7 linked regions of the Homo sapiens genome follow. The protein of the gene in region 1 purifies or fractionates together with the protein of each later gene. This does not show direct contact. Each region holds a gene or a part of one and is shown in the gene's direction. Other genes may lie near its edges. The genes, in order: GRAMD2B, TXLNG, BNIP1, GOLM2, MARCHF5, HOMER1 and GOLM1.

The links.
Region 2: the proteins of GRAMD2B (region 1) and TXLNG purify together in Homo sapiens (affinity purification with mass spectrometry; 3 studies listed by BioGRID and IntAct, with this or other methods). This does not show direct contact.
Region 3: the proteins of GRAMD2B (region 1) and BNIP1 purify together in Homo sapiens (affinity purification with mass spectrometry; 3 studies listed by BioGRID and IntAct, with this or other methods). This does not show direct contact.
Region 4: the proteins of GRAMD2B (region 1) and GOLM2 purify together in Homo sapiens (affinity purification with mass spectrometry; 3 studies listed by BioGRID and IntAct, with this or other methods). This does not show direct contact.
Region 5: the proteins of GRAMD2B (region 1) and MARCHF5 purify together in Homo sapiens (affinity purification with mass spectrometry; 3 studies listed by BioGRID and IntAct, with this or other methods). This does not show direct contact.
Region 6: the proteins of GRAMD2B (region 1) and HOMER1 purify together in Homo sapiens (affinity purification with mass spectrometry; 3 studies listed by BioGRID and IntAct, with this or other methods). This does not show direct contact.
Region 7: the proteins of GRAMD2B (region 1) and GOLM1 purify together in Homo sapiens (affinity purification with mass spectrometry; 3 studies listed by BioGRID and IntAct, with this or other methods). This does not show direct contact.

Annotation. Positions count from the first base shown.
Region 1 is NC_000005.10:126,468,172-126,472,438, forward strand, and holds part of GRAMD2B (GRAM domain-containing protein 2B), read left to right. Parts: intron 1-1,505; coding exon 1,506-1,617; intron 1,618-4,066; coding exon 4,067-4,133; intron 4,134-4,267.
Region 2 is NC_000023.11:16,792,410-16,796,676, forward strand, and holds part of TXLNG (gamma-taxilin), read left to right. Parts: intron 1-4,267. UniProt on the Homo sapiens protein: May be involved in intracellular vesicle traffic. Inhibits ATF4-mediated transcription, possibly by dimerizing with ATF4 to form inactive dimers that cannot bind DNA. May be involved in regulating bone mass density through an ATF4-dependent pathway.
Region 3 is NC_000005.10:173,146,764-173,151,030, forward strand, and holds part of BNIP1 (vesicle transport protein SEC20), read left to right. Parts: intron 1-102; coding exon 103-195; intron 196-4,267. UniProt on the Homo sapiens protein: As part of a SNARE complex may be involved in endoplasmic reticulum membranes fusion and be required for the maintenance of endoplasmic reticulum organization. Also plays a role in apoptosis.
Region 4 is NC_000015.10:44,410,499-44,414,035, forward strand, and holds part of GOLM2 (protein GOLM2), read left to right. Parts: intron 1-2,837; coding exon 2,838-2,908; 3' UTR 2,909-3,537.
Region 5 is NC_000010.11:92,349,400-92,354,464, forward strand, and holds the end of MARCHF5 (E3 ubiquitin-protein ligase MARCHF5), read left to right. Parts: coding exon 1-133; intron 134-271; coding exon 272-438; intron 439-1,691; coding exon 1,692-1,808; 3' UTR 1,809-4,565; downstream 4,566-5,065. UniProt on the Homo sapiens protein: Mitochondrial E3 ubiquitin-protein ligase that plays a crucial role in the control of mitochondrial morphology by acting as a positive regulator of mitochondrial fission and as an important regulator of immune response.
Region 6 is NC_000005.10:79,398,850-79,403,116, reverse strand, and holds part of HOMER1 (homer protein homolog 1), read left to right. Parts: intron 1-1,061; coding exon 1,062-1,218; intron 1,219-4,267. UniProt on the Homo sapiens protein: Postsynaptic density scaffolding protein. Binds and cross-links cytoplasmic regions of GRM1, GRM5, ITPR1, DNM3, RYR1, RYR2, SHANK1 and SHANK3.
Region 7 is NC_000009.12:86,033,302-86,037,568, reverse strand, and holds part of GOLM1 (Golgi membrane protein 1), read left to right. Parts: intron 1-1,061; coding exon 1,062-1,221; intron 1,222-1,943; coding exon 1,944-2,201; intron 2,202-4,173; coding exon 4,174-4,267.

The DNA of each region.
Region 1 (4,267 bases):
ATGACTGCGTTTAGCCGTAGGGTTGAAGTTACGTACAAATGTACACATCCACTAAAATGGAAAACCAGGACTAGAATCATCTTAGAAGGAAACTCTGGAGCTCTGACCTCTGTGCTTAACAGGAAAAAGGAAGACTTGGCTTCAAACATGTTTTGTGGTTTCATTTTTTTTATTCTGATTTCACTTTTATTGTATTCCCACTCTGGGATGTTTTGTCTCTTTTCCTCATACCCAATTCTTGCTTATCCTGTTAGGCCCAGCATTTTAAGCCCACATTATTCTACTGTTTTCCTCTTCTATTTATTTACTTTTTTTAATTTAACTTTATTTTTTTGAGACAGAATATTGCTCTGTCCCCCAGGCTGGAGTGCAATGGTGCAATATCAGCTCACTGCAACCTCTGCCTCCCGGGTTCAAGCGATTCTTCTGCCTCAGCCTCCCGAGTAGCTGGGACTACAGGCGCCCACCATCATGCCCAGCTAATTTTTGTATTTTTAATAGAGATGGGATTTCGCTATGTTGGCCAGGCCGGTCTCAAACTCCTGACCTCAGGTGGTCCGCCCACCTTGACCTCCCAAAGTGCTGTGATTACAGGCATGAGCCACTGTGCCCGGCCTGTTTTCCTCTTCTCTTACCTCCTGTTAGACTTATTGGCTCCATACCTTCTCCTAACTCCTATAATATGTATTTTTTTTGGTGCTAAATCATGTACTGCCTTTTTAAAAAAGTGTTTGATGCATGCATACACAGGCGCCTTAAGGATACAAACTGTGTTATGGGCCCCAAGACATTTAATACAATGCCCTACTCAATTAATACTTGTTATATATTAGTGGAATTCTGAAACAAAAATATTCTTTGATTGAACTATAGCTGCAATATTATTTAGTAATTTGCCTCAAGTACTCCTTTTTAAATACTGATTAAAATAGTTTCGTTTTAAAATGATGTAATTATTTTCACAACTTGATTGTTATTTCACCCTCTGTAAGTTACTATTTCTACAGTTTTTGATTACAGCCTGATGAAATCATTGCAGTGTCCTAAAGCATGTGCTGTGTAAATATTCTCAGAGTATCATGAATGATTTTTGATATCCAGAAAAGAAAAACAAATGTCAGGTTTTCTTAGAAGATAGTATAATAATCAAGATTTATTACAATAAATTAATGAAAAATGTATCTCATAGGCCAGGTGTGGTGACTCATGCCTGTAATCCCAGCACTTTGGAAAGCCGAGGCAGGTAGATTGCTTAAGTCCGGGAGTTCAAGACCAGTCTGGGCAACGTGGTGAAACCCCATCTCTACAAAAAAATGAGCTGGGCATGGTGGCACACACCTGTAGTCCCAGCTACTCAGGAGGCTGAGGTGGGAGGATCGCTTGAGTCCTGGACGGGGAGGTTGCAGTGAACCGTGATCATGCTGCTGCACTTCAGCCTGGGCAACAGAGCAAAACTGTCTCAAAAAAAAATTATCTTATAGACACCCTGGACTTTCTTTCTTTAGGTCAAAATCCAGTTTTGATGGTGCCTCTTTAGCAAGTGATAAGAACGACTGTAAAACAGAAAGCAAAAATGACCCTAAGACTGAAAGAAAAAAGTCTTCATCTTCCAGCCAGGTAATTTGAGAATGGAATTTGTATTGTCTTAGAGGGTGACAGGGCTACTGAAGCCAGTGACAAGAAGGAACCCAAGTATGCACCTTCCTGCTGGTCAAGACTAATATAGGTATAGAGTTTAGAGAATTTAGAAGAACAAACAGGCAGCAGTTCCTCCAGTCCATTTTTCAGCAACGTTATATTCCACAACTCATTTTTCAGCACATTGCATGGTAGTGAGTTCCATGCTGTGGCCTCGAACTCTGACAGATACCCAGAGATCAGGGACCAACACAAAGTCATGTGCTTATCCAATAATTGGCAGGACAAGGGGAGTTGTGACATCCTTGTACTGAAATTGAAGAGTCTGATAAGGCACCTGCCTGAATAGTAGTAGGCCAGCCAACTGCACACAGAGGAGTTAGACCTTTGAACAGGGTCAGGATTCTTCTCCAGAACTAATTTTGGTTCTGCTTTAAAATATACCCAGATAGGAAACAAAGCCTAGTTCTATGTCATCAGAGAGTGTGATGCATGTGCTGGGGACAGGAGTTTGGGGTTTTTCTTAATTCTTCACCCCTCTAAATACTTGAATATGTGTTTCCTAAGAGCTAAACCAAAAACCATCGGCACACCCAAGAAATTTAAATATGAAATGTATTAAAATATTATTAATACAAAATTCACTTTTGAATTTCCATAGTAGTCCCAGTAATAAATATCCTTTATAAAGGTGTTTTTTTCCTCTTCAGGATCCAATCAAGAGTCACATACTGCATGTAATTGCTATGTCTTTTCTCTTTTTTTTCAAGGCAGAGTCTTGCTCTGTTGCCCAGGCTGGAGTGCAGTGCCACAATCTTGGCTCACTGCAACCTCCACCTCCCGGGTTTAAGTGAGTCTCATGACTCAACCATCTGAGTAGCTGGGATTACAGATGTGCACCACCACACCCAGCTAATTTTTGTATTTTTAATACAGACAGGGTGTTGCCGTGTTAGCCAGGCTCATCTCAAACTCCTGGCCTCAGGCGATCCACCCACCTCTGCATCCCAAAAATGCTGTGATTACGAGCATGAGCCACCGCACTCAGCCTGCTATGTCCCTTTTAATTGAAAGCAGCCCCACTACCTTTTTTGCCATTTATTACGTTGACATTTTTGAAGCGTTTATGGCCTAGCATATTTTAAATCAAGCGTGCAACCACTGCTCACTGTAGCCATTGAAAACAAAAGCTCAGTGAAGCCATAGAACACCTAGCTTTAATCAAGGTATCTTTCTATAAGGAGTTTATCTGTAAAATAGTTGACTTGCAGGGACCATCTATCATCTTGATGACCTGGTCTGTAGTTCTTTATGGCAAAACAGGGCCAGTTTTGCCATTGAGACCACTCTTGGTTTGGATAATAAAGCCATCCAGGGCCTCCTACCCATTCTCCTTATAAGAATTTTTCTTCAGAAGCATCCCGTGAGGCAGATTGATCCTGTGGAGGGAGGATCGAGTTCTACCCCATAGTTCGCTTCAGGCTTGAACTCCTGGGCTCAAGAGATCCTCCTGCCTCAGCCTCCCGAGTAGCTAGGACTACAGGCACATGCCACCACATCCAGCTAACAGTTCTACTCTTAATAGCTATATGATGCAGGTGAAAGTGTTTTACAAGCTGTAAATTGCTGGCTATCCATTGTTATTGTCACAGTTGTGAAAACAGATCCCTTGAGGATGAAGTGATTTACAGCTTTCATGGTCTTGGGCCTTCTGCTGCCCTGGAGAGTGAAGTCTTTGTATGAAATCCTACTTGTCTTGTCAGTAGCCTACTACTGCATCCTACTCCTGTCACTGGCTAAGGAAATGCCTTCACAATAATACAGTAGGAAGAGTGGCCATATGTTGCCTTAGACTATAGGTCCTTTACATGTATTATCCCATTTAAGCCTCATGGCATCCCTTGAGGCTGGCACTGTTTTTGCCCTCTGGTACAGAAGAGGAAACCAAGGCCCAGGGAGATTAAGTGACTAAGCCATGGTCACACAACAAGAGCTAGAGCCACTACAGCCAAGACTTCAACTCAGGTTTACCTGACTACAAAGCTTTGAACCACTGTACTCTTCTGAGAGTACTCACTGGTACCTTTAGTACCTGGGATCCAGTATCTTCCCTAATGAGATTCCTTAGAATTTCATCCCATTTCTCATCAGGGACATCCTTGTCCAGCCCTGTTACCTCGGCAGTAGGCTGACCAGCAGCTGCATCATTATATCCAACCAGCAAAGCATTAAACTTGTTAGAAAATGAAACTGTGTGCCCAGACTTTCACTGTGTTTTACTGAAGGCTTGTGTCAGAGACTGTAAGATCAGTGAGAAGGAATTCCTAAAGATACTATTAAGGGAGGGAAAATTTGTTGTTGAAGTTGAATTTGTGATGTTTCACAAGAAAGTGAGAATGGTGATGCTTGTATTTTGTTCTCATTGTAGTACAAGGCCAATATGCACTTTCACAAGTTGTTTCTTAGTGTCCCAACGGAGGAACCACTGAAGCAAAGTAAGTTCTGACCTGTTTGACTTTTTAAGCTACATATTTGAAAAGTTGATCATTAGTTTTGGGGAAGAAAAAGGGCATAGTCCATGGACTGAGTCACCAAGGGGATCAGGTTTCTGAAAGTAATAACATAACAA
Region 2 (4,267 bases), on another chromosome or scaffold:
CCTCCCCCTAATTCCTCTTGTTTGGTTCTAATGTGATTATGAATAACTTTTAGTTAATATAACGGGTGTGTCAGTATTTATAAAGTATGGGCCAGGCATGGTGGCTCATGCTTGTAATCCCAGTGCTTTGGGAGGCCGAGACGGGAGGACTGCTTGAGGCCAGGATTTTGAGACCCGCTTGGGCAACACAGGGAGACCCCGTCTCTATGAAGAATAAAAAACTTAGCTAGGCACATTGGTATGTGCCTGTAGTTCCAGCTACTTGGGAGGCTGAGGTGGAAGGATCACTTGAGTCCAGGAGGTCAAGGTTGCAGTGAGCCACGATTGGGCCACTGCTCTAGCCTGGGCAAGAGAGTGAGATCCTGTCTCTAAAAAATAATAATAATAATAAAAATAAAAAGTATAGGCCAGGCACAGTGGCTCATGCCTGTAATCCCAGCACTTTGGAAGGCCGAGGCAGGTGGATCACCTGAGGTCAGGAGTTCAAGACCAGCCTGGTCAACATGGTAAAACCCCATCTCTACTAAAAATACAAAAATTAGCTGGGCATGGTGATGCATGCCTGTAATCCCAGCTACTCGGGAGGCTGAGGCAGGAGAATCACTTGAACTTGGGAGGCGGATGTTGCTGTGAGCCAAGATCGTGCCATTATACTCCAGCCTGGGTGACATAGAGGGAGACTCCGTGTCAAAAAAAAAAAAAAGTATACAATAATATACAAATTTAATATCATATTCATCAACATTGAGATGGGACATTTCTAGAAGAGGGTAGAAATAGGTAAGGTGACCTTTAAGATCCATTAAGACCCTGGGAGTACATTTTTATGTTTGAATCTACCTCCTAGTTGAAATTCTGTTGGCACTTATAAATACTTACATTTTATTACTTGAAGGAAAAGATACATAAAATAACTGGTGTTTTCCTCCTATGCTATCAAAATAATTGTATTAGCATTTATTGCTTAGGGTGTTGATTTGCATTCTGTGTTGCATTTCCAAAACGTCCCTAGAATGACCTCTGTTATCTCCTACTTCCCACCTTATAGTCTGTCCTGAGTAATATTTACTGGCTACTTTTTTTTTTTTTCATGTTTCTTCTTTCCCTACTCTCAAGGTAGTAGAATGGTTTGGCAAGAAAGATGTGCCAGTAGCTTAGAAACTCATTTCTTTATGGGTCTTTTGGATTGCAAAATGGGCCATATTAAAAGTGAGAATGAATGCATTTTGTAAAATATCTTTTTTTTTTTTCTTTTTTTTTGAGACAGGATCTCCCTGTGTTGCCCAGGCTGGAGTGTAGTTAACGCTTATTGCAGCCTTGAACTCCTGGTCTCAAGTGATCTTCCTGCCTCAGCCTTCCTAGTAGCTAGGACTACAGGTGTGTGTGCCACCATGTCTGGCTGTTTTTTTTCTTTTTTTTGAGAGACAGGGTCTTCCTATGTTGCGCAGGCTGGTCTTAAACTCTTAGGCTCAAGCATGATTCTCCTGCCTTGGCCTCCCAAACTGCTGGGATTACAGGCGTGAGCCACTGCACGCAGCCTGTAAAATGTCTTCATTCAAATATTATAACAGTTCTGCTATGTGTCAGCAGTTTATATCTATCAGCAATTTATACCTATTATATCTACTTATGGCGCTAAGAAGGTAAGTACTGTACATCCCAGTTTACAGATAAGGAAACTGACAGGTTGGCCTCCCTATGGCCACACAGGAGATGCTAAGTGGTATATTCAGAGTTTCGGCTCTTTGGGCTCCAAAGCCATTGTCCATATTTCGTATCTCTCATGTTAACATTTCCTCAGATAGTAAAGGTCACATAAGTGCCCCTAGTTGAAAGTGAGCAAAACATGCTGGTAGATAAAATAGTAATAGTAATAGTTTTTGCTAAACGAAGACAAATTATGAGGGATGGAGTTGGATGATTAGGGGATATCGAAAATTGATTGTAATTTGGGGACCAGAGGAGTTTTGAGCCTCTTAATATCTTTTGCTTCATTCACCTAGGCCCTAGGTTAACCTTGAGATTTATGATTTAGGAGGTATGCCATGCTACAACTTCCTGCAACAGTACCTCCAAGTGTAATTTGAATAAATTGAAAGGTAGAGAGTTTAGAGAGACTCTCTTTAACTTCTTGTAAATAAAGTTCATATAACCTGGTGTTAGCAAAGAGTTGAAGTGGTCTGGGGAAGTAAGACAAATAAAAAGAAGGCTTGATGTTTCAGAGGTGTATCAGGATTGGTCCATATGGATCTAGGGAAGGATGACTTCATAAAATTGGGACAGGGATGTTCACTTAGGTAACCCATAAAAGTAAAGGACCATTTTACATCTAAGAGTCTGTGGCTTAAAGATGCTAGTTGTGTGACCCAGCCCCTGTCCTGTAAATAGATCAGGTCCAAGTATATTTCAGTGGCTTTGGGCATTAAAATCTTTGAATGTCCTGCTCTTTTGCTGCTGAAATAGGTACTTACACTAATACAAGTATCTTTCAGATTGCAGATATTCATTGAGTTACAGTTTTAGAACTAGAAGTGATTTTGCAAATCATGGAATCCAGCATCCTTTATTTATATAAAAGAATAATTTAGCTGGGCGCGGTGGCTCACACCTGTAATCCCAGCACTTTGGGAGGCAGAGGCAGGCGGATCACGAGGTCAGGAGATCGAGACCATCCTGGCTAAGATGGTGAAACCCCATCTCTACTAAAAATACAAAAAATTAGCCAGGCGTGGTGGTGGGCGCCTGTAGTCCCAGCTACTCGGGAGGCTGAGGCAGGAGAATGGTGTGAACCTGGGAGGCGGAGCTTGCAGCGAGCCGAGATTGCGCCACTGCACTCCAGCCTGGGCGACAGAGCGAGACACTGTCTCAAAAAAAAATAAAAATAATAATTTATTTTTATAAAAGAAATAGCCACAGAAGTTAAATGCAAAATTTAATGCAGTCATTAACATTCACTTATTAAAAGGCAAATGATGTACACAGTCTAATATAGATGTTACCAGTAAATGTACAATATTAGCACTTATACTGCTAGGTTATGAGACTAAAGAAGCTGTGTCCAAAGTAGACCTTTCCCGGATCCTTTTACTCATTCTTGGTTTCTTCCCCAGTGGGGGAGATCAGGTTCCCTCATCCCTTAGTTTAGCACTAGTCTGCCTCTCTTTTCTTGTCATTTACCTACTAATGGTTCTGTGTGTTCTTTGTGCTCTTACATGCTGTGACAGTTACTCTGGATCCTTTAGCTGCCTGCTCCCAGGTAGTAGTTAGGACAACTCCTAGAACTTACCCTGCCTCCAATTTATGATCCCTCCTTAGAACTCCATCATTTCTCTGGCTTCATTTATTTAGTAATTTGTTTGGGTAACATGCCATACAGTTTGCCCATTTATAGTGTATAATTCAATTTTTTTTTTTTTTTTTGAGTCGGAGTTTCACTCTTGTTGCCCAAGCTGGAGTGCAGTGGTGCGATCTCGGCTCACTGCAACCTCTGCCTCCCGGGTTCAAACAGTTCTCCAGCCTCAGTCTCCCGAGTAGCTGGGATTACAGGTATGCGCCACCGTGCCCGGCTAATTTTTTGTATTTTTAGTAGAAACGGGGTTTCATCATGTTAGCCAAGATGGTCTTGAACTCCTGACCTCAGGTGATCCACCCACCTCAGCCTCCCAAAGTGCTGGCATTACAGGCATGAGCCACTGTGCCCGGCCTCACTTTTTTTTAGTATATATTCAGAGTTGTGTGACCGTCACTACACTTGTTCATTTTTATTATTTTTTATTAGAGACAGAGTTTTGCCATGTTGTCCAGGCTGGTCTCAAACTCCTGGGCTCGAGGGATCCTCCAGCCTTGGCCTCTCAAGGTGCTGGGATTACAGGCATGAGCCACTGTGCCCGGCCGCACTTGTTTATTTTTAACATAACCTGGGAAGAGCATGCTCTTTAGAGAGTATGCCCTTTACAGAGAAAGACAAGGATTCAGTCTCTGCTTTCCTTTCCTAGGTTCCTGACCGTGGACATCGTACTTAAATTACCTTATCACTGAGGCTGCTTGTTTATCATACCTGCCTATAAGATAGTTCTGAGAATTAAATGAGGAAGTAGTCTATTAAATACTGTTACAGAGGCTTCTGAATGAGCCAGAGCAATGAAGGTCAAGGGAAAGTGTTTATACCAGTTGTCCCTCACCACCCATTTGGATTCCACTGATTGGCAGATCTGTCACTTAACAAAAAGGGGGAAAGATGCCTATTTGTTAGGTGTAGTTGAATAAG
Region 3 (4,267 bases), about 47 Mb from region 1:
TGTTAATATTAGTTGGTCTAAACCAACTCTATCACTGTATGGATGGTGTCATTTCATTTCATTGCCTTGAGAAAGGCCTTTCATCTGTTCAATGTCTCCTAGGATATCCGTGATTGTTCAGGACCCTTAAGTGCTCTTACTGAACTGAATACTAAAGTAAAAGAGAAATTTCAACAGTTGCGTCACAGAATACAGGTGGGTATTCTCAATTCAGTCAATGAAGGGGGCTCTGTCCTGGGTATATCCTCTGCTTGAGAGCCGTCTGGGTTCTTCAAACACCAGCTGATGGGAGCAGTAAACACTTAGACAGGGAGGGTGACTCTGTACTAACCTGCTCTCCAGGTAAAAACGAGAAACTTTTGGCCGGGCACGGTGGCTCACGCCTGTAATCCCAGCACTTTGGGAGGCCGAGGCGGGGAGATCACGAGGTCAGGAGATCGAGATCATCCTGGCTAACACGGTGAAGCCCGTCTCTACTAAAAATACAAAAAATTAGTCGGGCATGGTGGCAGGTGCCTGTAGTCCCAGCTACTCAGGAGGCTGAGGCAGGAGAATGGCGTGAACCCAGGAGGCGGAGCTTGCAGTGAGCCGAGATCGAGCCACTGCACTCCAGCCTGGGCGACAGAGCGAGACTCTGTCTCAAAAAAAAAAACAAGAAACTTTTGCATGCAGAACACTGCCAGCTGTGTGAACGAGTGAATGGCAGGAACACCATTATCCTTGGAATTTTTGAAATCCTGGGGCCACTTCAAATACTTTCTCTTCTCTGCCATTCTTTCTACCCTATTCATTCATTCACTACCTCAATCCATCACACTCCTGGGTTTTTTTTTATGCTGTTACTTTGCTCAGCATCTTCCTTATTTCAATAGTCACCAGTCACATCATATACACATTTAGTATGCCTGAATTCAAGTATGGTATATGTGCTGTCTCAAAAAACACTAGAGGGTGACAAGTAGCAGTTATGTTTGTTTGTTTTATTTATTTCACATTTTATTCTTATTACATTGGGCTGGGCAAAGAGTTGTGCACCACTGTATAGATCATGTTATTCTGTTGCTTTCATTTTTAAAAATGAAAATGAGGCCAGTAGTTTGAGAACAGCCTGGCCAACATGGCAAAACCCTGTCTCTGATAAATGCAAAAATTAGCTGGGCATGGTGGCACACACCTGTAATCTCAGCTACTTAGGAGGCTGAGGCAGGAGAATCGCTTGAACCCAGGAGGTGCAGGTTGCAGTGAGCAGAGATCGTGCCACTGCACTCTAGCCTTGGTGACAGAGCAAGACTCTGTGTCAAAAAAAAAAAAAAAAAAAAAATATATATATATATATATATATATATATATATATATATATATATATATATATATTTTAATAGAGATGGATTTTTTGCTCTATGTTGCTTGAGCTGGTCTTAAACTCCTGGGCTCAAGCAATCCTCCTGCCTCAGCCTCTGAAAGTGCTGGGGTTACAGGCATGAGCCCAGACTATTGTGTTGCTTTCAGACAGAATTGGGATTCAGCTTCTAATTGTTTCCAAGTTCAGAATCTAGATCAGAATCAGAGGATGAAGACCACTTGTGGGTCTGGGGGCTGCTGAGAGGAAACACGTATGGAGCTGACTATGGAGGGGTCATGTTTCAAGGCTGCCATCTGGGCATCCAAGGATCCTGCATGCAGCTCATGGGTAGAGGGGCCCACAGCAGCCCCTCAAAGTGAATAGGGATGGCACAGGCCCAGGGCTGGAACTCAGGAGTTGGAAGGATGACTGCATCTGCACACTTAAAAAGATGCTGTCCATCTGTATCCTGGAATCCTGTGTAGGCCCTCTCCCTGAGGACAGGAACAGGGTTGGCTCCTTGGCCTCTGTTTAGCCTCATGAGTAGTTCAGTAAAAGTCCTGCAAACTTGTCATTATCTGGAGACATTCCTGCCGGCTCCTCTTCATGCCCCTCTACTTGAAGCACTAGGCAGTTGCTTTATATTGTTCATGATTCTTCTTCAGTTATTCAAATTTGAGATAATTGCATTCTTTTAGGGAACTCTGGATCTCCTGGTCACTCCAAGGGTTGATTACTGTTCTGATGGTTTTTCTGGTTTCTTGGTTTCTTCTTCCTTCTTTATTTCCTGAGGGTTTCTAGTAATTTCAGTCTGATGTCTTACGTTCTCCATTTTTATTCCTGAGTTTTCTCCTGGAATTCTTCTCACTGCAGCCACAGGACCTAATGTTGGGTTGGCAGAGAACTAGCACTTACTCTGCCCTAGTGGGACCTAGGAGAGTCAGGAGGTACCTGAGTGTGGAAACATGCCTGCTCCTCTAGACTTCTGGAGGTCTCTTAGAAGTAGCAGTTTGAATAGTGGAGATGTTTCCCCTGCTGTACCTTCAGTGAGGGTGAGGTGGGTGTCATGGATCTGCCCATCTGTATTAGTCTGTTTTCATGCAGCTGATAAAGACATACGTGAGACTGGGAAGAAAAAGAAGTTTAATGGACTTCTGACATGGCTGGGGAGGCCTCACAATCATGGCAGAAGGCAAAGAGGAGCAAGTCACGTCTTATATGGATGGCAGCAGGCAAAGAGAGAGCTTGTGCAGGGAAACTCCTGTTTTTAAAACCATCAGATCTCATGAGACTCATTCACTATCATGAGAAAAGTGCAGGAAAGACCCACCTCTGTAATTCAATCATCTCCCACCAGGTACCTCCCATGACATATTGTGAGAGTTACAATTCAAGATGAGATTTGGGTGGGGACACAGCCAAACCATATCACCATCCCTGGATGGGTCTTGTGGCACCTGGTCTTGTGGTATTGGGGTTTTGTATTAGGCCTTTCTTGCATTGCTGTAAAGAAATACCTGAGGCTGGGTAATTTATTTAAAAAAATGGGTTTAATTGGCTTAAGGTTCTGCAGGCTGTATGGGAAGCATAGCAGTATCTGCTTCTGGGGAGGCTTCAGGAAGCTTCCAGTCATGGCAGAAGGCAAAGGGAGCAGGCATGTCACATGACAAAAGCAGGAGCAAGAGAGAGATTGAGTGAGAGCTCACTTACCACTAAGGGGATGACTTATGCCATTCATTAGGGATCCACCCCCATGATCCAAACACCTCCCACCAGGCCCCACCTCCAACACTGGGGATTACCATTCAACATGAGATTTGGGCAGGGACAAATATTCAGACTATATCAGGTCTAAAGACTTGAGCTTTTTTGGCCAGCACAGTGGCTCACGCCTGTAATCCCAGCACTTTGGGAGGCCAAGGCGAGTGGATCGCCTGAGGCCAGGAGTTCAAGACCAGCCTAGTCAACATGGTCAACCTCCATCTCTACTAAAAGTATAAAAATTAGCTGGGTATGGTGACCCGTGCCTGTAATCCCAGCTGTTTGGGTGGCTGAGGCATGAGAATTGCTTGAACCTGGGAGTTGGAGGTTGCATTGAGCCAAGATTGTGCCACTGCACTCCAGCCTGGGTGACGGAGCAAGACCCTGTCTCAAAAAAAAAAAAAAAAAAGACTTGTGCTTTTCATATAACATGGCCCCCAAAGCCCACCAGCAACTCTGTTGTTGCTTAACAGAGGAAGACAGTCTGTTCTAAAGCTGGTAGAAAAGCTGGCCAGTTGGACCCCTGAGAAACAGTATGTCTGTGTCCTGTGTTTGCCTACCTCAGAGATTTTCAAGGGCAATTTTGAAAATGTGTAATTTTTGCTATTGGAGTTAACTATATGATTTTCAGCAGCGTCACCATACCTAGCTGATCTCTTCCTGCCTTCATCTCCAGTACTGATTTAATCATCTTAATTTTTTATTTTTGAAAAGATGTTCCTTTTACATGTTTTATGTATGTGTCTGTCTATAAGTATCAACATTCAGTGAAAAGTCTCAGTTATGCCCCAGTTTTGTTTTTTGTTCCACTCTTCCAAACAGGTAACCACTTTTGTTACTGATATGTCATTCCAGAGTTTCTCTACTCAAATATTTAAAAAGACAAATTTCTTTTTTTTTAAAATTTCTTCCTTGTTTCTCATCTAAAAAGTAGCATACTAACACACAGCTTTTAAAAACTTTATACTTTTGTTTTTTTGTTTTTTTTTAAGACGGAGTCTGGCTCTGTTTCCCAGGCTGGAGTGCAGGTGTGATCTCTGCTCACTGCAACCTCCACCTCCTGGGTTCAAGCGATTCTCCTGCCTCAGCCTCCCAAGTAGCTGGGATTACAGGTGTGTGCCACCACACACAGCTAATTTTTCGTATTTTTAGTACAGACGGAGT
Region 4 (3,537 bases), on another chromosome or scaffold:
AAAGTGTGAAATGGATATAATTTCAGGCTTTAACACATATTAAGACAGATTTGGGATTATCATACCTAGTGGATTATACTATTTAAAGATAGATCATTTGTTAAGAATATGGGGTAGGCTGGGTGCAGTGGTCACAGCTGTAATTCCAGCACTTCGGGAGGCTAAGGTGGGCAGATCGCTTGAACCCAGGAGTTAAAGGCCAGCCTGGGCAACATGGTGAAACCCTGTCTCTACAAAAAAAAAAAAAAGGAAAAATTAGCTGGGCATGTGGTGTGTGCCTGTAGTCCTAGCTACTCAGAAAGTTGAAGTGGGAGGATCCCTTGAGCCCTGGGAAGTTGAGGCTGCAGTGAGCCGAGATTGTGCCACTGTACTCCAACCTGAGTGATGGGACTGAGACCCTGTATCAAAAAAAAAAAAAAAAAAAAGGTGCAAAATGGTTACCTGAAATTCTAGAAATGAAAATTTCTGTAAGTTTAACAGGAAAGTTGTTGAAAAAGAAAGTTGGTTTGTTTGACTTTTTTTTTTTTTTTTTTTTTTTTTTGAGATAGGGTTTAACTCTGTTACCCAGGCTGGAGTGCAGTGGTGTGATCTCTGCTTACTGCAACCTCCACCTCCCAGGCTCAAGCAATCCTCCTACCTCAGCCTCCTGAGTAGCTGGGACTACAGGTACACACAACCATGCCTGGCTAAATTTTGTATTTTTAGTAGAGACTGGGTTTCAGCATGTTGCCCAGGCTGGTCTCAAACTCCTGAGCTCAAGTGATCTGCCTGCCTCTGCCTCCCAAAGTGCTGGGATTGCAAGCTTGGACAACCATGCCTGGCCTGTTTTGCATTTTTGAAAGAAGAAAGTTTTAGAGTGTTAAAACCTCTCATACCTAAAGTAATAGTTTTTAGAAAACTATAGTATACATATGAATTTAGATTCCAATGTATGACTTTCTTTAAATTATATTAACAAAAATTAAGCTATTGGGTAATAGTATGTGACCCAGAATGTAAGAAAAGTGATTTTTTAAGTCTGCAGAGAAGCCAAAAGATATCATAAAAATCCATGTACTCTACGCCAGGCGCGGTGGCTTATGCCTGTAATCCCAGTACTTTGGGTGGCTGAGGCAGGTAGATCACAAGGCCAGGAGTTTGAGACCGGCCTGGCCAACATGGTGAAACTAAAAATACAAAAATTAGCTGGGTGCGGTGGCAAGCGCCTTTAGTCCCAGCCACTCAGGAGGCTGAGGCAGGAGATTCCCTTGAACCCAGGAGACAGAGGTTGCATTGAGCTGAGATCATGCAACTGCACTCCAGCCTGGGCGACAGAATGAGACTGCATCTCAAAAAAAAAAAAAAAAAAAATCCATGTACTCCAAAGGGACTCTCCAAGGCTCTCATCAAAATACTTTTCATTCTTGTTCTAATATAATTTTAATACTCTTGGCTGAGGCCGGTGGATCACTTGAGCCCAGGAGTTCCAGACTAGCCTGGGCAAATGGCAAAACCCTGTCTTTACAAAAAATACAAAATGTAGCCTGGTGTGGTGGCGTGCACCTGTGGTCCCAGCTACCTGGGAGGTTGAGGTGGGAGGATTACTTGAGGCCGGGAGGTTGAGACTGCAAGTGAGCCATGATAATACCACTACACTTGAGCCTGGCCAACAGAGCAAGATTCTGTCTCAGAAAAACAAACAAACAAACAAACAAAAAAACCTCTTCAGCAGTCTCATTTCAAAACCTGTAATTTGCAGCAAAATTAGAAAAGAAGGATTGCTATTGGCAGGTAAATTGACAAGAAGGCAAAGTGATCACAACTCATAGCCAAGAAAGAGCCAGAAAAATCTGTAATAGCCAAATAAATCAAACTCCATAGCACTATTTGGAGTAATTTAATACAGCCACTCAAAGAGGCTTTGAGGATTTTAGTAACAGTAATCTTTTTTTTCTGTTTAGTTAAGAAAAGGTTAAACTTTGGTTGTTATACCCCATTTAGGAAGCCAAGAGGAAGCTACTTTTGCAGAGACGTAAAGAAATTCACTAAAATGTTAAATGTTGGGATTATGAGTGACTTTTATTTTTCTGTCTTTTATAATTTTAAAAATACTAATATTGGATACTTTTATAATTTAGAAAAAAAAATTGATGTTTAAAAGCCTGAAAATGTGTACAGAAATGTTTCTACCAAAGCTTTAATTTAAAGGACTAAATATCATCTATATAGAAATAATATATTTAGGCTGGGCACTGTGGCTCACGCCTGTAATCCCAGCACTTTAGGAGGCCGAGGTGGGCAGATCACCTGAGGTGAAGAGTTTGAGACCAGCCTGGCCAACATGGTAAAACCCCGTCTCTACTAAAAATACAGAAATTAGCCAGGCATGGTGACAGGTGCCTGTAGTGCCAGCTACTTGGGAGGCTGAGGTAGGAGAATCGCTTGATCCTGGGAGACAGAGGTTGCAGTGAGCCAAGATCGCACCACTGCACTCCAGCCTAGGCAACGGAGTGAGAGTCGGTCTCAAAAAAAAAAAAAAGACTACATTTATATAAAAATATTAACTCCTCAATATTTGTGCGTTCCTAAAGTTTTACTAGTTATGTCTATCTGGCTCTATTTCTGTTTGTCTGTCATCTATGTCTATTTTCTAAAGATTTGTTAAAATTAATCTTGCAAAATAGTTCCACATACTTTTCACTCTTTAGCCAAGCAACTAAGAAATAGAACACTATTTGTACTAGGTGTAAAATAACAAGCAGGAAACTACCTTAAGGCTATGAAAAACTGAGACATTAATTGGATTTCTGCAGTGATTTAAAAAATAATATGTTGATACAAAATTATTTTACTTACAGATGATGAAGAACGAGAGCTTCAAATGGATCCTGCAGACTATGGAAAGCAACATTTCAATGATGTCCTTTAAGTCCTAAAGGAATGCTTCAGAAAACCTAAAGTGCTGTAAAATGAAATCATTCTACTTTGTCCTTTCTGACTTTTGTTGTAAAGACGAATTGTATCAGTTGTAAAGATACATTGAGATAGAATTAAGGAAAAACTTTAATGAAGGAATGTACCCATGTACATATGTGAACTTTTTCATATTGTATTATCAAGGTATAGACTTTTTTGGTTATGATACAGTTAAGCCAAAAACAGCTAATCTTTGCATCTAAAGCAAACTAATGTATATTTCACATTTTATTGAGCCGACTTATTTCCACAAATAGATAAACAGGACAAAATAGTTGTACAGGTTATATGTGGCATAGCATAACCACAGTAAGAACAGAACAGATATTCAGCAGAAAACTTTTTATACTCTAATTCTTTTTTTTTTTTTTTTTGAGACAGAGTTTTAGTCTTGTTTCCCAGGCTGGAGTGCAATGGCACAATCTTGGCTCACTGCAACCTCCGCCTCCTGGGTTCAGGCAATTTTCCTGCCTCAGCCTCCCAAGTAGCTGGGATTACAGGCACCCACCACCATGCCCAGCTAATTTTTGTATTTTTAATAGAGAGCTAATAATTGTATATTTAATAAAGACGGGTTTCACC
Region 5 (5,065 bases), on another chromosome or scaffold:
TTCCTTTTAATTGGACTTCCTACTATTCCTGTCATGCTGATATTAGGCAAGATGATTCGCTGGGAGGACTATGTGCTTAGACTGTGGCGCAAATACTCGAATAAACTACAAATTTTAAATAGTATATTTCCAGGTAAGGCACTGAACTGTGGTTGTAAAGTGCATACCAAATTGATCTTGAAGAACAATAACATGCTTTTTTAGCCATGTTTGAAGGTAGTCTAACTCTTCTGATTTATTAGCACTAACGCACTGCATTTTTTTCCTCTAGGGATAGGTTGTCCTGTTCCTCGAATTCCAGCTGAGGCCAATCCTTTAGCAGATCATGTCTCTGCTACTCGAATCTTGTGTGGAGCCCTTGTCTTTCCTACTATTGCTACAATAGTTGGTAAATTGATGTTCAGTAGTGTTAACTCTAATTTACAAAGGACAATCTTGGTAAGACGGCTTTAACATTACTTATATTACCTTGCAAAAGAGAATGAAGTGTATTTGTTTTTAAAAGGTGGGGAACTGTATAAATATTCGGTCTGTGGCTCCTATGCATTAAGCCTCTATTTGAGCCTCACTATCATTCAATAGCTTGAGTGGAAATAAAAAGAGGAGAAACCACTGCAGCAGTTCTGGCCTTTTGGAACTATGTTGTAGGTGCTTTCTCTCCTGGCATATGCATGAATCATCACACCTGTCCCTCTTGCCAGTGGGATTACAGTACTTTACGATCAGACCACCTGGTTCAAATCCCATCACAGAAATTGTCTTGCTGTGAAATCTAAATCAAATGTCTGGACTTTTTGTTCCTGTAGTATGGTGATGGTAATAATCAGGATTATTGTGAGGATTGTATAAGTACTAGCACATAGTAAGCACTCATGTTGTTTGCTATTATTGTTACTCCCACTTCTCCCCTCTGGTGGCATGTAACCTGCACGGACCTTGGAGGACTGAACAAAGGGGGCAAACGTGGGAATAAAAGACAAAGACAAGAGAGTATATTTGGAAGAAGGGGTCAGGGGGCACCTTGCCTCTAGTGGACAAGGGCCCTGAGCTTTACACAGCCCTCTGTATTTATTAGGCAAAAGAGATAGTGAGAAGCAGGGGTGATTGTCGGGTAATTGTCAGTCCATTTGGCAGTTTGGTTCACAGCAGGCTTGCGAGACTGCATCATTTGAACAGTAGGCGCTAGATTTCCCAGTAGATAAGTTCAAGGAGCCCTGCACCAGGGAGTGATGGCCCCCAGCAAACCCTTTGGTGGCAGGCTCAGTGTGAGTTTACTCACATCCTGCATTCATGATAAACAGTTTGCTGTTTGGTCATATAGCCTCCAGTGGAATGCTGAGTTGGTCACGATCCCTTTGGCCTTTCTTGCTCCCAACAGTGGCAGTCTGCACATAGTGCCCTAGCATTCTTCTTTGTATATCAGAGTATATGTAGAACTACATGGAAGAAAGACTAGTCAGAAAGGATAATGGAGAAGGCATCTGTGTCCCCTGTTACCTGTAGTAACAGCGTATAGTCTGTCTCTCTCCCTATCTCATCTCCTAGTAGAAAAAGAAAACTGTTTCATTTGCAGTCATCTGAATTAGTTTAGCATCAAAGCCTACGTCTTTTGTGATCTAAATAAAATTATTTTTATTACTCTGTTTCTCTAAATCTGCATTATAAAAAGCTAATTTTCCTTTTTATTTTAGGGTGGAATTGCGTTTGTTGCCATAAAAGGAGCATTTAAAGTTTACTTCAAACAGCAGCAATATTTACGACAGGCACACCGCAAAATTCTGAATTATCCAGAACAAGAAGAAGCATAAAACTGACTTCTGGTTGTTCTGCAGTTCTCTCATCCTTATGAATCTGTTGTGTTGTTTTGATTCCATCATTAATGCACTTGTGGAGACTTGTGATAAGCTGCTGCTCCTATATTTTTTAAGAAATATAATAAAGCACTTAGGGCAGGGGAAATCATCTCGGTAATCATGGAACCTAAGGATGTGATTTGTTTTCATTGTTTGTATGTACTACTTTTATGGCAGTCATATGAACCATTATCTTAGCATGGTAAACCTGGGTTTTGTTCATATTTTCTCCAGACAGAAATGCAAAGATCAAACTGTGCAAATATTAAAAAAATGCACATGCTGTTTTATTCAAATGCCTCTTTTGTACATGTTCATGTTTAGTGTTTTCTCAGAATCAGCAACTCAAGGTACTATGAGGATTTTTCTCACTGACATAATTTGATTACATACTAAATAAGAGGATATGTTAATATGAGGAAATGTAAATTAAATTAGTTATAAATAAATAACCAAAAATGTATGTAAACATTCAAATGATTATCTGAACAAATGAGATTTTGTGGTGTTTTCTTTAACCCATGTGATGTCCTCCAAAATGTGTAGGGTAAAAATTCACAGGGCTTCCAGATCACTTTTTCAATATTAAATTTTATTTACATAATGTTGACATCTCATACTTCATGAAGTAATTTTGACTCATGCAGTCGTGTGTGTGTGTGTGTGTGTGTGTGTGTGTGTGTGTGTATTTGTGTGTTTCAGTGTTTCATCAGGTCCTTCCATCTCTGGGAGTTTTTTCAACCCATATTTCTAGAAATTACAGCTGCCAGTTTATAGTAGTTTGAGCAGAGGATGATTTGCAAAAATAAAAATAAAGTTATTTTACTCTCCTCTTGCATTGATTCAGTTATTGAGATATTCGTTGATCACCTCCTATTTCCCAGGCACTGTGCAGAGTGCTGTAGGACATAGTGGTGAACAAGACAGACTTGGTCCAAGCTCTTACAGAGTTGACAGTCTAGTTTCAGCACATAGAAAACCAGCAGTGAATAAACCAAGGTGAGGCCTTGAGCTCTTTGTTTTTATATTAATGAGGAGAAAAGTATGAAAACAAGAAGTCTTAAGTAAATATTGAGGTCATTGTTTTTGGCTTAAGTTTATTATAGAAAATCAACACTAATGTTTTTAGATTTTAATTGTCCTATTGATGAGGCTAGCACCTTAATCACTGTTTAGTTTTGTATTCATTTTTAAAAGCAATTATTGAAGCCATTTTCAATAGATTGGCCATTTTAATGTTCAGCAACCTGAATGGTTATTTTTGTTAATTAAAATTAAATTTTTAAGAGATATTTTCAAAACCCTATTTATTTTCTTGTTCACAGTAATGCATGTCAATAATAAATGTTTCCCCTTACTGATAAGCGGCCACTTTAGGAGTGTAGCAAATATAGATTGAGCTATGTTAGTTTGCAATAATATATGTTAACTTTAGTAATTAAAGACTGGTTTCTATAGTATGAATGTCTTAATTTTGAGTTATATGATGTTTATTTGAATGACTGTTGAACATTCAAATTTGTATTATTTGGAGATGAAGATTTGACTAACAGTGAGCCTTATTAAGAACACTACTACAGTTCTGAAGGGGAAATATAACATCTATGGTTATATATTTTAAAAACTTAGATTATAGGCTGTAATTATAAAATATATTGGCTTTTGTTTTCAATGTGAAAGATACATTAAATGGACACATATCTTGCAAAATTTTGTTGTATAGAACAGTTTTTAGGCAGCCTTTACTAAAGTTATGCAAACACACAGTTCCCCATTTACTACATTAATGCCCTTGACAGGGAGTAGCTGCTTGGTTTTATAGGTATTAGGGCTCATGAAGGCCGGGGAACAACTCTAATCCTTTTGGGGCAGGAGGGAGGGTTTTTTTAGGGTTGCGGGGAGGGAACTGCAAGTGCCTGAGGACCAGAGTGGCCTCTAGCCCCGAATTGAACACTTTTAAACCTAAAGAGCCTTATTATTATTAGCTCGAGAAATACCACATGCCAGTCTTCCCAGGAAGGTGACCTGCCTGACCATGAAGCAACAAAAGAGCATAGGCAGACTTAAAGTTGGATAGACCTGGGTTCAAATCATAGTTCAGCTTTCAATAACTGTATGTATGATTTTGGCTAAAGGATTTGACTTTCTCTCAACTGCAGTTTTCTTAATCTTTGAAATGCAAATAATGTTTATCTCAGAAGACTATTTCTAGGATTAACTGAGAGATTAAAGGAACAGCAGCACTTAGGCTCAAAATCGCCCCTACAAAGCAGTAGTTGTTTCTTAATTGCTAAGTAATCTGTTTGCACTCTAGGAAAAGTAAATGGAGAGGTAAAAGAAAGGCATTGGGGACAAATGAAAGAGATGATGTAGATTTTTCGGATGGGTGGGTATATTTTATTTTCCAGTTTATTTTCATATTTCTTTACTGTGTTATTTCTGGAAACTTTAATGTTTTAAACCTCTTTTATAAAATTCAATGACGACTACTAGAATTCTTTTCAAAAGTTAACTTATCTCCAAAGTGGCTGAAAATATTGTTTACCATTACATGATTATGAAATGACTGTGAAGAATATAAAATTAAACTTAGTGACTTAATTAGTCACTGCCTTGCTAACTTTGCTGTAATTTTTTTAAACGTCTTGTTTTTAATATAGCAAACTATCTCAATACTGGCTGGATTAGGTTAAATAAAGAATTTTTATGTTCTCTAGGTGTACTTTGTTAAATCTCAAAACATTCTGTACATACATAATTTTTTTTAATCACAGTTATCGAGATACTAGTTTTTGTAAGTAAAAGTAATCTGAATTTAAAAAAAAAACTGTATGGAAGAATTTGTCCTAATTTTGTAAACAGGCTAGCCTATATTCTAAGTATGTTCTAATGACTAAACTACATCCCCACTCACCCACCCTCAAAGCCTCTTGCACTGAGTATAATTAAGCAACTAGACAAGATCTGTGGGTGGTCTCATGCCATGATGTCTTAAAGTGTATTCGAGTGAGTTGGGAACACAAACTGCTTCTGAGATATTAAGAACTTAAATTTCTGAAGTAGAAGATTAGAATCCTCTAGAATGAGTTAAAGGTCTTTTCCTTGCATCCATTTGGGGATTATATTGGTTTTAAGTCATTTCATTACCCCATCTGAGAGACAGATGCTAAGAGGAGAAAGGGCATAGAATTGAACAGTCCTGGATGCATATG
Region 6 (4,267 bases), about 47 Mb from region 1:
AATTTTCAAGAGGAGTCTTTCCAACTAAAAGAATTGTCTTGTAGTAGAAAATTGTTTTAGTTGAGGTACTTAACTGTAGTAACTTATCAAGTAGAATATTAAATGAGGAAAAACGGTGATTGCTTTAGTCTTCTTCTATTTATGACACTGGAATTATATCAGAAGTCAAGTCTTTAGAACCAGTTTGTAGGCCTAGCCTTTCCTATGAAATCAGTTTATTGTAGCAAATGTTTGTATTTTTGACATTTTAAGGTCCTGAATAAGATGAAATAAATCAAAAACAATTTCAAAAGAAATACTACATTACATATCCCAAACCTTATGACATTTAAGCATCCTCATATGTTTTCATTAAGGAATAACATTGTACTTTAGGGTTTGACACACGTAAAAAATGTAATACATTGTTAGGTTTTTTTAATAGATGTTTTTCAGGCTATAATGTTTATTCCTTAAAAGAGAATGGGTGGAAACTCTTCTGTAGATAACTGTATCTGTCATAATGAAGGTTGGAAACATTCCACGTTAAGCCTGGTACTTGAGTACTTTTTATATTTCTTCACTTGCCAGGTTTTCTTTACTAGGAATATTTTGGTAAAGTATTTGTGTTTTTTAGTATTTTGAGGTTGTCTTTGAAAACATTCTTAGGGCTGGTCACAGTGGCTCACGCCTGTAATCCCAGTACTTTGGGAGGCTGAGGCAGGTGGATCACCTGAGGTCAGGAGTTCAAGACCAGCCTGGCCAACATGGGAAACCCCGTCTGTACTAAAAAAATACAAAAAAATTAACTGGGCATGGTGGCGTGTGCCTGTAGTCCCAGCTACTCAGGAGGCTGGGGCAGGAGAATCGCTTGAACCCAGGAGGCGGAGGTTGCAGTGAGCCAAGATTGCGCCACTACACTCCAGCCTGGGCAACAGAGCGAGACTCCATCTCAAAAAAAAAAAAAAAGAAAAGAAAACATTCTTAGACTATAAACCCTACAATAGAACTGAGTCTTGCTGTCCCTTCAAGGTAACAGTAGTTGGTGTAATGGATAGAATTTTCTTTTTGTTTTATTTTAGTTCAGCAATCAGCAAACATTGGGAGGCTGAACTGGCTACCCTCAAAGGAAATAATGCCAAACTCACTGCAGCCCTGCTGGAGTCCACTGCCAATGTGAAACAATGGAAACAGCAACTTGCTGCCTATCAAGAGGAAGCAGAACGTCTGCACAAGCGGGTAATTTCAGGGCTGATGTCTATAGGGATTTAGGGCTAACAGGTTTTCTTGATCAGAAGAAATTTGCATGTAGATTCAGCACAGGGATATCTTCTAGTTCTAGGATGTCAGAACATAGATATGGGTTGTATGATATGCATTTGTTTGATTAAGAAAAATATTTTCCATAGTTTAATGAGAATGAAGAATATACGCCTTTTGAAGTCAACAAACCATGTTGATTCCCCATATTATCCATGGGGACTAGCAGTAATGCACAAGTACATAAAAGCACTAATGTATTAGTGCTAGTTGATTAGTACTGACATGGTAGTTAAAGTGTGTGCTGAGAAAAAATTCAGGGAGTAGTTTAATTAGAATTTTAGCTTTGGGTGTTGACGGTGAAGCGGGAATGCTTTTCTCCTGAGTTGTCCTGGGGAGGGGATTCTCCATTTCTGGTTTACAAGACCAGAGTATTCCAGAGTGCGAATTCCAGTTCTGCCGGTTATTATCTGTATGATCTTTGATAAGTTATTTCCTTCTTCCAGCTCAGTATTCTCATCTGTAAAATAGGAATAATAAGTACTCTGTACAATTCCTGTGAAGATTAATTGAATACTTAATTGGCATGTAGTTGCACTGAGTCAAAAGTATGTATTCTGTACAATTCCTATGAAAATTTGTTGAGACACTTAAGTGCCGTGTAATTGCACTGTCTCAATGAGTTGCAGTGAGTCAATGAGCTGCTTTTATTATTTTCTTTTTAAAGAAGGAACAATTTGAAAAATACAAGTAGAAAATTATTAACTTTGGTAATATTAGAGATTTGGTGCAGAAAAAGAAAACCAGAAATTTCAATACCATTAATATCAGAAGCCCAGATAATTACTTGTAAAGTGTTTTAATGCTCTCAGGCCAAGAGTTTGAGATTAGCCCAGGCAACATGGCAAGACCCCATCTCCATTAAAAAAAAAAAAAAAAAAAATCTTTTTTCTTTTTTTTTTTTAATTAACCAAGCATGGGGACACACGCCTGTAGTCCTAGCTACTTGGAATGCTGAGTGGGAAGGATTGCTTGAGCCCAGGAATTGGAGGCTGCAGTGAATTATGATGGCTCTACTGCACTCTAGCTTGGGTGACAGAGCAAGACTCTGTCTCTAAAAAACAAAAAAAAAAAAGAAGAAGTTTTTTTTTTTTTAATTCAAGGCATAGAAGTGCTTCACCCAACAGATGCCTTTAATTTCTCCTTTTAAAAAAAATTCCAAGCTGGGCACATTGGCTCACACCTATAATCCCAGCACTTTGGGAGGCTAAGGAGGATGGATTGCTTGAGCCCAGGAGTTCAAGACCAGCCTGGGCAACATGGTGAAACCCCATCTCCACTAAAAATACAAAAATTAGATGGGTGTGATGGCATGTCCCTATAGTTCCAACTACTTAGGAGGCTGAGGTGGGAACATCACTTGAGCCCAGGAGGCAGAGGCTAAAGTGAGCTGAGATCACGCCACTGCATACTCCAGCTTGGGTAACAGAGCAAGGCCTTATCTCAGAAAAAAAAAAAAAAAGAAAGAAAAGGAAATGCAGTTGAGACAGAGTGGAAATGTTAGAAACTTGAGTAAATGTTATTCTATCCTGTGTGTAAAAATTAACTTAAGAGAGGTGGGGGAAAGGAGAGTTGTTTAATGGGTATAGACTTACAGTTTTGCAAGTTAAAAAAGTTCTGGAGATCTGTTTCACAGCAATGTGAATATAAATACTTAACACTATTGAACTATACACTTAAAATGACTAAGATGATAAATTTTATGATATATGTTTTTTACCACAAAAAAAAATTTATGACAATTGTCATAGCCAGAAAATATTAAGGAGCTATCATGTCTCCTTATTGTGTAATCTCTGCCCTTAAGAAATTTTCTCTTTAAATAGTCAATTGAATATTAAAGAACTTAAGAAACATAATATATTTATTTACTCACATATTTTCAGTTTCCATTGTGCTTCTTTCCTGTAGATCTGAATTTCTATCAGGTATTGTTTCCCTTCAGCCTGAATAACCTCCTTGAGCAGTTTTTGTACTCCAAGTGTACTGCCAACAAATTATCTCCACTTTTATTTAGATAAATTTTGTCTTGATTATAAGTTACATTTTACTGTTTTTTCAGAAAAATGACTAGTCATTTTTAATTTTGTATTGGACATTGCAAATGAGATGTTGTAGAGACCACAGATTTTGTTATTTTTGAATAATGTTGAGTTTTTGTTTCAACAGGCAGTTATTTGGAGATTATCTTGAATTTGTGGAGTTGTGTACTTATGCTTTGTTAGAATTCATGTATTTCAATTTTGCTGTAACCCTAGGGTAAATCACATTGTCCTAGGAAATCTTTATCTCTAAGACATAACCCTTTCCAAAGTTTCACTGCAAAGCTTGAGGTATTTACCAAGGCCCTCTAATTTAGCAGGGACTAGCAGAACTTCAAACTGTCATCTCTGTTGAGCACCATCGCAGTTTAGTTCTTTCAGCCTTCCAGCTCTTTTCCTACTCCTAGTTGTGCCAGGTGTTCTGCAGAGTCCTAAAATTCTCAGGCTTCTCAGAGAAATAAGACTATGGATTTCTGCTTGTTCAGTCAAGCAATGCAGCCAGACTGCAGAGTACCTTCAGGCAAAAAGATGTGGAAATCACCCAAAGTGACTGCTTTCTTGCAGTCTTTTGCCCAATTTGGTTACTCACCAGGTCCTTCAAACAGTTGACTTTTACATTTTGCCCACAATTTGCAATTGTTACCTATAGGAAAGTTACTCCAATAAAAACTATTTCATCATTATCAGAATTGGAACTCCCTTTAAGGAATTTATTATATAATGAGACAAAACAAATACACATTAAACAATAAGTGAAATAATTCCCAAGATTTTTGAACAGATGCTTGGTTTTGTGAACCAGAGGAGAGCCTTGAAGACTTGAGCAGATAGGAATGGCTTTCTGGAGAAAGCACATGCTGAGCTAAGAGTTAAGGGTTCGGTTAGGTCCGAGTGGTTTTCAGAGGCAAGAGAGGACATTCTAGTTA
Region 7 (4,267 bases), on another chromosome or scaffold:
AAGTCTTCTAATACAGATGCTTGAAGGTGTACATTTCTTCTAAGCACTGCTGGAGCTGCTTCCCATAAGTTTTGGTATGCTGTGTTTTTGTTTTGTGGCAAAGCATTTTCTTTTTTTTTTTTTTTTTTTTGAGAGACAGTCTCGCTCTGTCGCCCCAGGCTGGAATGCAATGGCATGATCTTGGCTCACTGCAACCTCCACCTCCCAGGTTCAAGCGATTTTCCTGCCTCAGCTGGAAATCACCTCCTTGCCTCACCTCCCAAGTAGCTGGAATCACAGGTGCCTGCCACCACACCTGGCTAATTTTTGTATTTTTAGTAGAGATGGGGTTTCACCATGTTGGCAAGGCTGGTCTCAAACTTCTGACCTCTGGTGATCTGCCTGCCTCGGCCTCCCAAAGTGCTGGGATTACAGGTGTGCGCCACCGCGCCTGGCTGTCCAAGCATTTTCTAATTTGTGTTGTGGTTTATTGTTGGACTCACTGGTTATTTAGGAGTGTGTTGTTTAATTTCCAAATATTTGCAAATGTCATAAGTTTCATCCTGTTATTGATTTATAATCCATTCCATTTCTATTAATTTACTTTGTGTGATTTTAGTTAAATATTTAAGTGTATGGAGGCTTGCTTTGTGGCCTGCCATTTGTCCATCCTGGAAAATATTGTGTGTGTGCCTGAGAAGCAGGTGTGTTTGCCCTTGCTAGGCTGAGGGTTCTGCAGATGTTTGTTTCGTCAAGGAGTATTGTGTCGTTCATGTCTTTTTTGTTGTTGATCTTCCGCCTAGGTATTTTATTATTCCGTAAATGCTTCCTCTCAGCAGAATCACTGCCCAGTTTTATTCTGTATTGACAGTACTTTCTGGGAGACCTTGACTCAACCTCTTGTCTTCTGATTTACGCCACATGACCAGGGCGTGACCAGAGTAGACTGTGGCGTTTCTCGGGGTCTTGGTTGGAAGGATATGGTGGTGGGATTGGTGGGATTCATTGCATTGGTAGGATTCTTTTACGGCTTCTGTTCACAGAGCCCTGCCCTGGCTGGCTGTCCTGTGCTTCTGTTTCAGCTCCAAGCCCTCAGTGAGCCTCAGCCCAGGCTGCAGGCAGCAGGCCTGCCACACACAGAGGTGCCACAAGGGAAGGGAAACGTGCTTGGTAACAGCAAGTCCCAGACACCAGCCCCCAGTTCCGAAGTGGTTTTGGATTCAAAGAGACAAGTTGAGAAAGGTAAGCAGAGCCCAGCAGTTGCCCTGTTCCCAGCTCTCCAGAGCCCCATCAGAGGAAGCAGTCCCAGCGAGCTGCTGAGGCAGTCAGTGAACCCGGCAGCGGCGCAGCCAGGAGCAGGGACGTGTCTCTCTGGGCCCCTGGAATTGGGGCTTTGGGGCTTCTCTGACAGATGTCTCCTCCTTGTAAACGAAGTGCCTTGTTCCTGGGCAGCTGTGTAGAGAAAGGCCCAGGCTGCACCTTTATGCAGGACATTGGTGGGCTTGTGGGACTCGGGGGAGGCGGCTGAGCCCCAGACACTGGGAACCAGGAGGCTGCTGTGTCTGTGAGCAAGCCCTGGGTGGGCCTGCCTGCCCTGGCTCCCAAGTGCTTGCTCCAGCGGACCCGATGATCAGGTCACTCAGCAGGATACCCTTTTCCCTTTGTACCTTGTCAAGGTAATTTAGTCCAGGTGTTTTTTTTTTTTTGTTTTGTTTTTTTTTTTGGTAAGCTACTTTTCCCTTTGTCGCGGTTCTGACGATGAGCTGCAGGCACAGAAAGGCCTGCAGTCTGTGGCTGAGGTCACAAAAGGAGCTACCTGGTTGTTCTCCTGTGTGCAGCCCACCCCACCCCCACTCCTTGGGAAGGCTCTGGGAATTGAGTGGCACCAGGTTTTGCTTTTTTTTTTTTTTTTTTTTTTAAATCAAATGCTGGCAAGGTCACAGCTAACTGTGTTCTGTGCACAGAGGAAACCAATGAGATCCAGGTGGTGAATGAGGAGCCTCAGAGGGACAGGCTGCCGCAGGAGCCAGGCCGGGAGCAGGTGGTGGAAGACAGACCTGTAGGTGGAAGAGGCTTCGGGGGAGCCGGAGAACTGGGCCAGACCCCACAGGTGCAGGCTGCCCTGTCAGTGAGCCAGGAAAATCCAGAGATGGAGGGCCCTGAGCGAGACCAGCTTGTCATCCCCGACGGACAGGAGGAGGAGCAGGAAGCTGCCGGGGAAGGTGGGTGTGAAGTTTCGGGGGCCGCTGTGGACTCCCTTCCACCAGACACCCAGCCCACCTCCATGTCCTTCCCAGCACCAACATATCACCCTGAATTTTACCAAACAGCAGTCCACAATTTGCCAATTCCTTTTCGTTTGAAGGTTTCTTATTCGTTATCAAGAGGGAGGCAGGAAGGAAGAGCAGCATATGCTCTAGAACTCGAGGTTTTAGATGCAATATTGGCAGGGAGTCGAGGGGACCTTGCAAGTGGATGGCCTGCAGATGGGTGCTTAGCATCAAGTGGACGCCCCCTCCTGGCAGGCAGGCCACATGCCCCATTTTTGTATGTCCACCGTCGTGCAGTGTCTGGTGCCATTTAGACAATCAGTGCCTAGTGAATGAATGAAGGAAGGAAGGAAGGAATATTGGGTAGATGAAGGTTAATGCATATGTGAACATTGAGAAAAAATGACATGTGAATCACTCCTTTTTGGTTTGGTTGACTCTTTTCTTTTTAAAGAAATAAAGGGTAGGAATTGGAGATCAACCGACTATTCCAGGATGTATTTCAGTCCCTTCAGATATGGAAAATGTCCTTCCCACCTGAGCCAGGAACACTTCTGAGGACATGACACCTGCGCTCTGGGGTGGACCAAGTCACAGAAGTTGGAGAATACACTTATTTGCAGAAGTTACCTTGATTCCATTTAAATCTAATTTTCACTTCAGTGTCTTACTGAAGAACGTGTCCTTCCAAGTTCCAGTTAAAGAATTGGATTTTGTCAGCCTCCCCCTAAGTATCCCTGCTCTGTCCTTGTGTTCCGTGCTCACCCAGCAAGAAGATGCTTGTGGTGTGTGAGGCGGGGAGATCTCACTGGCTCGCTCAGCCTGTGGCGCTCCAGTGTCAGACCCCTCAGCGGCTGGTCACAAAGCGTAACAAAGGTGGGCCTGAGATGCCACAGTGCCTGCAGGATGCACCTGCTTCTAGATGCAGGTGTGGTGACCTCATTTGAAGAAACGCGGTGGACACATAGGCCTGTGCAGTTTCCACCCCAGGCAGTGAGCCAGAGAAAGAGACTAGAGCTGCTTTTCCAGGTGTGCACTTTTAAAAAAGATTTTGTTTGGCCGGGCGCAGTGGCTCATGCCTGTAATCCCAGCACTTTGAGAGGCCGAGGTGGGCGGATCATGAGGTCAGGAGTTCAAGACCATCCTGGCCAATATGGTGAAACCCCATCTCTTCTAAAAATACAAAAATTAGCTGGGCATGGCAGCACGTGCCTGTAATCCCAGCCACTCGGGAGGCTGAGGCAGGAGAATCGCTTGAACCCCGGAGGCGGAGGTTGCAGTGAGCCGAGATTACGCCACCGCACTCCAGCCTGGGCGACAGAGTGAGACTCCATCTCAAAAAAAAAAAAAAAAAGATTTTGTTTACCAGCCTGCATACACATATAAAATATGTAAGTTAAACCCTTTGAGTAGGTCTCTTGAAAGCCTTTTGTCCTCATCTTCTCTGGCTGCTGCCCACTCCAGGGAAGAATAGAGTAATGGGTGCTCTCATGCTCTAAGTATGAGGGACACCTTCTCACGTGTCTCACAGTGGCAGCTCCATTTCCTCTCTCCATTCTAAGGAGATGCTGTCATTAGCTGTAGATATCCGTTCCTTCCTAAAACAGTGGCACCTTTCTTTTATCTTGAGTTGATTATCTCTTTAAAAAATTGAGATTTGGGTTGTTAGTTTCTCCATGTTCTGCCTAGAATGCACCCTTGTATTTAGGGCCATGCTGTCTGTAGATTCCGAGTCCAAGTGGAGTACACATAATGCATGTGCTTGTCCTGGAAGCCAGCCCTTGCGTCCCTACCATTTCCAGAGAGGCAGCAGACAGATCTGATTGTGAGCAAGTATGGCTAACCCCCAGCACTTGTGCTCTGATAGTCCTGTGACATCAAGACAGAAATGATGTAGCTTATGTTTTATGTGCTAATTTTACAGGGAGAAACCAGCAGAAACTGAGAGGAGAAGATGACTACAACATGGATGAAAATGAAGCAGAATCTGAGACAGACAAGCAAGCAGCCCTGGCAGG